2 linked regions of the Homo sapiens genome follow. The protein of the gene in region 1 purifies or fractionates together with the protein of each later gene. This does not show direct contact. Each region holds a gene or a part of one and is shown in the gene's direction. Other genes may lie near its edges.

Region 1 (3,830 bases):
TTCCAATCCCATCAGTTCCAATTTCCCCAACTTCCATCCCCTGCTCTCTCTCTCTTTTCTTTTTAGGCAGAGTCTCACTCTGTTACCCAGGCTGGAGTATAGTGGCGTGATCTCAGCTCACTGCAACCTCTGCCTCCTGGGTTCAAGTGATTCTCATGCCTTAGCCTCTCAAGTAGCTGAAATTATACACGCACTACTACGCCTTGCTAATTCTTGTATTTTTAGTAAAGATGGGGTTTCACCATGTTGGCCAGGCTATTCTCGAACTCCTCACCTCAAGTGATCTGCTCACCTCGGCCTCCCAAGGTGTGGGGATTACAGGCATGAGCCACCGTGCCTAGCCTCTCTTTTCTTACACAGACTTCCTGCTCAAATGTGTGAGCCTTGTGCCTAGGTAGGAAATATAATCAGTGTATAGAGTTTGTAGAGAGAAGATTTATTCATCAATGGTAGAAAATTGTAAAATGCAGGAGCAGAAGCTTCTTTTTCTTCTACTCACTAACCCAATACTGCTCTGTGCTCACTCTTTTGGAAAGCAGTGGATTGGCACAGTGGTAAACCTTACCTAAGTTCCAATCAGGTGTTTCGAAGGATTTGAAGGATGTTGTTGACACAGGATAACACTTGTTGTGGTTAGTGATTTGAAAAAGAGTTGAAATATAGGAGTACCTCAAAGAGGTGAGATCTGTCATTCATTTCACTCAGTGATCCCAACAGACCTGCTGTGGATAGGATGGCTCTACTCTTTGTAAACGTTGAACTTTTGGAATACACATACAGACTTGCATTTATCAGTACCTCATAAAGTATTTTATTACAGAGGGACTTTCTAAATATCTCTTGAATGAATAAATGAAATGAAATTCAGAAGTTAGGAACATGCCTCACCTGCTCTCCATACAGCAAACATCTTAATTCCAAAATGACCTTGCCATTCATTAATTTACCTTAATTAAAAAATATATACACTTATGTACAAACATGTTTAAATAAGCTTTTAATTTTAGAACAGTTTTAGACTTACAAAATTTATTAGGAAGATAATACAGAGAATTACAGTACACCTCATGTCCAGTTACCCCATTTTACATTAGTATGATACGTTTTTAAATAATGAATGAACCAATATTGATACATTATTATTAACTGAAGTCCATACTTTATTCAGATTTACTCAGTTTTTCCTAATGGCCTTTTGCTGTTCCAGGATCCCATCCAGGATACTGCATTACATTTAATAGTCATATCTCCTTAGGCTCTTTTTGGCTATGAAATTTCTTAGACTTTCCTTGTTTTTGATGCCCTTGATAGTTTTGGGGCCAGGTATGCTGTAGAATATCCCTCAGTTGGGATTTATCTTATTTTTTTCTCATGGTTAAATTGGGGTTATGACTTTTGGGGAGGAATATTATAAGGTGCCATTCTCCTCACCTCCCATCAAGGGTACATACTATCCACATTATACCCACTGTTTTTTTTTTTTTTTGGAAACTTAAAACTCATTTTATGTTATTATAAGTAAGAAATTAGCATTCAATATATGCCACAATATATCTTTGTTGAAGTGTAAGTTTGTTCCACTTTTCTATTTTTCATTTTCCAACTTTTATTTTAGGTTCGGGGGTACATATGAAAGTTTGTTACAAGGATAAATTGTATGGGGCTGGTATAACTGCTAGCCATATGCAGAAGATTGACACTGGATCCCTTCCTTTTGCCATATATGAAAATCAACTCAACATGCGTTAAAAAGTTAAATGTAAAATCTAAAACTATAAAAACCCTAGATAATATCACTATTGATGTTAACCTTGATGTCCTGGCTTGAAATAGCGTTTGTCAGTTTTTGCCACACTGTAAAGTTGCTCCTTTTTTCTCCATTGCCATACTATACTCTTTGGAACAAAGTCACTATGCACAGCCCACTATTAAGGACAAAGTCTTCTATTCTAGGCCTTCTGTCTTTCCATATGAACTTTAGAATCCATGTGTTAGCTTGGATTCTAAAATAGCTTGCTGGGATGTTGATTGAGATTGCATTGTATCTATAGGTCAAGTTGGAAAGAACTGACATCTTAACAATATTTAATCTTCTAGTCTATGAATCAGAATATCTCTCCATTTATTTAAATCTTAGACTTTCTTCATCTGTGTTTTCTAATTCATGCTTATAAATCCTATACATATTTTGTTATGTTTATACCTACGTATGTAATTTCAGGGGTATTACTATAGATGGAGTTTTTAAAATTTCAAATTCCAGTTGTTCATTCTAGTATATAAAAAAGCAAATGACTGGGTGCGATGGCTCATGCCTGTAATCCCAGCACTTTGGGAGGCCGAGGTGGGTGGATCACGAGGTCAGGAGATCGAGACCAGCCTGGCCAACATAGTGAAACCCCATCTCTACTAAAAATACAAAAAATTAGCTGGGCAGGGTGGCATGCGCCTGTAGTCCCAGTTACTCCGGAGGCTGAGGCAGGAGAATTGCTTGCACCCGGGAGGCAGGGGTTGTGGTGAGCCGAGATTGTGCCACTGCACTCTAGCCTGGGCAATAGAGCGAGACTCTGTCTCAAAAAAAAAAAAAAAAGCAATTAACATTTGTATGTTAACCATGTATCCTGCAACCCTGCTGTACTCACTTGTTGACTCTAGGAGTTTTTTTCTTTTTTTCTTACTTTTTTTTTTTAATCCTTTGGGATTTTCTACATAGACGGTCAGGTCATCTGCAAATAAAAAGTTATCTTTATTCCTTCCCAATCCGAATATCCTTTACTTTTCTTTCTTCTATTATTGTACTAGCTAAGACTTCTAGTGCAATGTTCCATAGGAGTGGTGAGAGAGGACATCCTTACCTTGTTCCCAGTCTTAGGGGAAAAGTGTCTAATTTCTCACTGTTAAGTATGATGTTGGTTATAGGTATTTTGTAGATGTTCTTTATCAAATTGAGGAAGTTTCTCTCCATTCCTAGTTTGCTGAGAGTTTTCATCATGAATGGGTGTTGTACAAACAACATTTTAACAAAAATAAAAGAAAAAGAAAGCAATCCTACTGCCTTAATAAGTCGACTGGTTTTCTGTATTTTCACATTTTTTTCTATTTCAAATAAATGAAGTATACTCAAAAGAGACATGTCTAACAGGGAGCGATTATACAAGTATAATTATATACCCATAGATAGACATAATATTACATATTTGGTGATTAGAATGTAAATTTAATTTTACAGTTCCCTTTGTACTTCATTATATCATACGCCATTTTTAATGTTCCTGCACAGACTTCAAAATCATAGTTTTTGGTGTCTCCAAATTCAATTTCCATAATTCATTAACTAATTCATTTCAAAGCATTTATTGCACATCCAGTACACACCAGGTCCTGATAATAGAGATTTAAAGAAGGATATGGCTACTCTCGGGTTTCTCACAGTCATGGAAACAAATGCCTGATAATATAGTGTGTTTAAGTTATCTTTATAGAAATATGAACAGAGAGTTTTGGGAGCTTGGAGGATGAATAGCGGAATCTAATTCTCTGGAGAAATTAGAAAAGTCTTGTTGAAGGAAGTGACATTTGATGTAACTCTTGAAGGACAGGAAATTTTCCAGATGAAGAAATAGTAATATTTACGAAGGTTTAAAGTTGTGCAAGAGCCTAGAGTGTTTCAGGAACAATTTAATAACTTAGAAATTTGAGATTAAATAAGGACAACACTGGATGAAGATTAAAAGATAAACCGGGCTAGATTGTGAAATGTGCTAAATTTCAAAATAAGGAATTTTGTTTTCCATATGGAATCAAGAGAAACTATTAAGCAGTGGAGTGGC
Region 2 (3,101 bases), on another chromosome or scaffold:
CGGGGTTTCACCACATTGGCCAGGCTGGTCTCCAGCTCCTGACCTCATGATCCACCCGCCTCGGCCTCCCAAAGTGCCGGGATTACAGGCATGAGCCACCATGTCTGGCCAATTCTTTCATTTATTAACTCAGCATTTTTTGGCATGCCTAAACATATGCTAGGTGCTGAGATGCAGACTGAGGAAGAGATAGTCTCTGTCCTCAAGGGGCTCACTGTCTAGTGTGGGAAGGCAGGATGTGCGTGCATCACCATAGTCTGTTGTGGGAACTGCTTTCCTAAGAATGTGTAAGAAGGGCCCTGGGAACAACTTGGGAGAGGCAAATAAAAGCAGGTAGTTTTTACATCAGGATTGGCAAACTCAAAAGTCTTTAGGCCTAGGATACTGAAAATGAGTGAGGTGAAGGACACATGTCATACTGTGGGAGCCCAGGGGACCTTGGCAAACAGGAGAGCACAGCCTTGTCAAAAGAGGAAGCTCCGCACAGCTCCAGCCATGGAACTAGGGCCAATGTTGCCAAAGCCAACTTCTCAGGGAAACAGGGTTTCCTGCAAGTGTGTGCAATGTCCAGACTTGTTAGTGTTGGCTGTCTGTAAATGTTTAACGATTGTTTTTAAACACATAATGGCCAAGCCAGACAGGTTTAGGGGCACCCCTGGACCACCCTTTGATTTAGATACAAATTAGACTTTCTTTTTCTTTCTTTTTCTTTTTCTTTCTTTCTTTCTTTCTTTCTTTCTTTCTTTCTTTCTTTCTTTCTTTCTTTCTTTCTTTCCTTTCTTTCTTTCTTTCTTCCTTTCTTTCTTTCTTCCTTTCTTTCTTTCTTCTTTCTTTCTTTTTTCTTTCTTTTTCTTCTCTCTCTCTCTCCCCTTCCTTCCTTCCTTCCTTCCTTCCTTCCTTTCGAGACAAGATCTTCAAGCTGGAGTGCAGTGATGCAATCACAGCTCACTATAATCTCCAACTCCTGGACTGAAGGGATCCTCTTGCCCCAGCTCTCAAGTAGCTAGGACTACAGGAATGTGCCACCATGCCTGGCTAATTTTTTTTTCTTTTAAAAAATTATTACTTTTGAGACAGAGTCTTGCTCTGTTACTCAGGCTGGAGTGCAGTGGTATTCTTAGCTCATTGTAACTTCTGCCTCCCAGCTCAATCCATTCTCCCTCCTCGGCCTCCTGAGTAGCTGGGCGCCACCATCCCTGGTTAATTTTTGTATTTTTTGTAGAAACAAGGTTTTACCATGTTGGCCAGGCCGGTCTCAGACCCTAGGCTCAAGCAATCTGCCTGCCTCAGCTTTCCAAATTGCTGGGATTATAGGCGTGAGCCACCACGCCCAGCTGTCCAGCTAATTTTTGAAAAATATTTTGTAAAGACAGGAGGTCTTGTTGCCCAGGCTGGTCTTGAACTCCTGGCCTCAAGTGATCCTCTTGCCTCAGCTTGCCAAAGCATTGGGATTACAGGTGGGAACCATCACACCTGGCCATGAACTTTCTATTATAATCTGTTCTACCACCATTTCTTTGGTAATTTTGCATCCTGATTTTATAGAGAGCATTTCTTTCATAAGAGTATGCCAAGACTCGAGATGTTAATTGACTCGACATTTCAGCCATTCAGAGGCTCTGAGAGAATCGAGATGATTACTTTTCTTTTCCTTTTTTTTTTTTTTTTGAGACAGAGTCTCGTTCTGTCGCCCAGACTGGAGTGCAGTGGCGTGATCTCAGCTCACTGCAACTTCTGCCTCCCGGCTTCAAGTGATTCTCTTGCCTCAGCCCCCCGAGTAGCTGGGATTACAGGCTTGTGCCACCATGCCTAGCTAATTTTTGTATTTTTAGTAGAGACGGGGTTTCATTACTTTGGGCTAGGCTCCTGAACTCCTGACCTCAGGCAATCCGCCTTCCTTGGCCTCCCAATGTGTTGGATTACAGGTGTTAGCCACGGTGCCCAGCTGAGATGATTACTTTTCTTGATACCCCCAGAGAAACTTACTGCTTAGACCTGAAGATCAAGAACTGCCCCCATTGGAGACAAACTGTGGGATAATTTATGTTAATTCTAAATAAATGTCTCTTAGTATCTCCTTTGGTTACTTTTCCAGGTGAGACAGGGGAAAAGGTGGAAACAGACATGGAGAATGAGAAAGTGAGTGAAGGGGCTGAAACCAAAGAAGAAGAAACAGGAGAAGTGGTGGACCTTTCAGCAGCCACATAGATAGAAGAGTGAACCGACACAGTGTGTTATCATAGAGGAGACAAAAATGGTAGTGAAGCTTGTGGTTATGTATCTTATCTTTCTACATTTACATGTTTTCTGTAAGGAGTGTGGTTATAGAGAGACTGTTGGAACCATGAGAAGGATGTTTCTGTGTTCTTGATTATATTGTTCTGCAAAACTGCTAAGCCATGAACAGTTTTCTTAGCTACTTAGAATGGTTATACATTTAAAAGTATAAAAACCAAAGCCAATAAAAATGATGTGATTATTTAAGAGTGTGAGGGTGACTTTCTTCATTGTGGCCATGGGGCCATTCAGTATAGAAAATGAGACCCTAAAAAGAAAGTGTAAACCTTTAGGTACAAGTGGCTAGAGAAAGGAGTTAGCAAATTTTAGGGAACTCACAATAATAAAGTCACACAATTATAATCATGATGGAATGAGAATGAACAACAGCAAAAATAATAGGATGAACTATACCAAATATTTCTGTCTTGTTATAGAATTCAGAGCTGATAAGAACCTTAGGAAGTATGTCATCTACACATTTGCTCTCCTTTAAGCTTGTCAACTACCACAGATCCTTATTTATCATGGAATATTAAATATGTTAACAGAATCCTTTGCAAAGGATTGCAACTCTGGTGCTATCACAAGGTTAGACATTTTTCATGATGAAAGGCTACACATTTTCCATGTGCCATTTCGAATCAGCTGTTGATTTTATACTCACATGAGGTTTTTCAATTGGTGTTATCCTTTTGAATAACATTAAAAGTATTTTTAATTAATTCACTTTTAAATGTATTTTGGAGACAATAAACAGCAAGGATTAAAACCTAGATTGTTGCTTATGTAGAGTCTATTCCTGGGCTCTACTCTTTTTTTCT

The links.
Region 2: the proteins of FMO5 (region 1) and ERICH5 purify together in Homo sapiens (affinity purification with mass spectrometry; one large-scale study listed by BioGRID and IntAct). This does not show direct contact.

What each region holds. Positions count from the first base shown.
Region 1 is NC_000001.11:147,218,601-147,222,430, reverse strand, and holds part of FMO5 (flavin-containing monooxygenase 5), read left to right. Parts: intron 1-3,830. UniProt on the Homo sapiens protein: Acts as a Baeyer-Villiger monooxygenase on a broad range of substrates. Catalyzes the insertion of an oxygen atom into a carbon-carbon bond adjacent to a carbonyl, which converts ketones to esters.
Region 2 is NC_000008.11:98,091,126-98,094,226, forward strand, and holds the end of ERICH5 (glutamate-rich protein 5), read left to right. Parts: intron 1-2,095; coding exon 2,096-2,208; 3' UTR 2,209-2,484; downstream 2,485-3,101.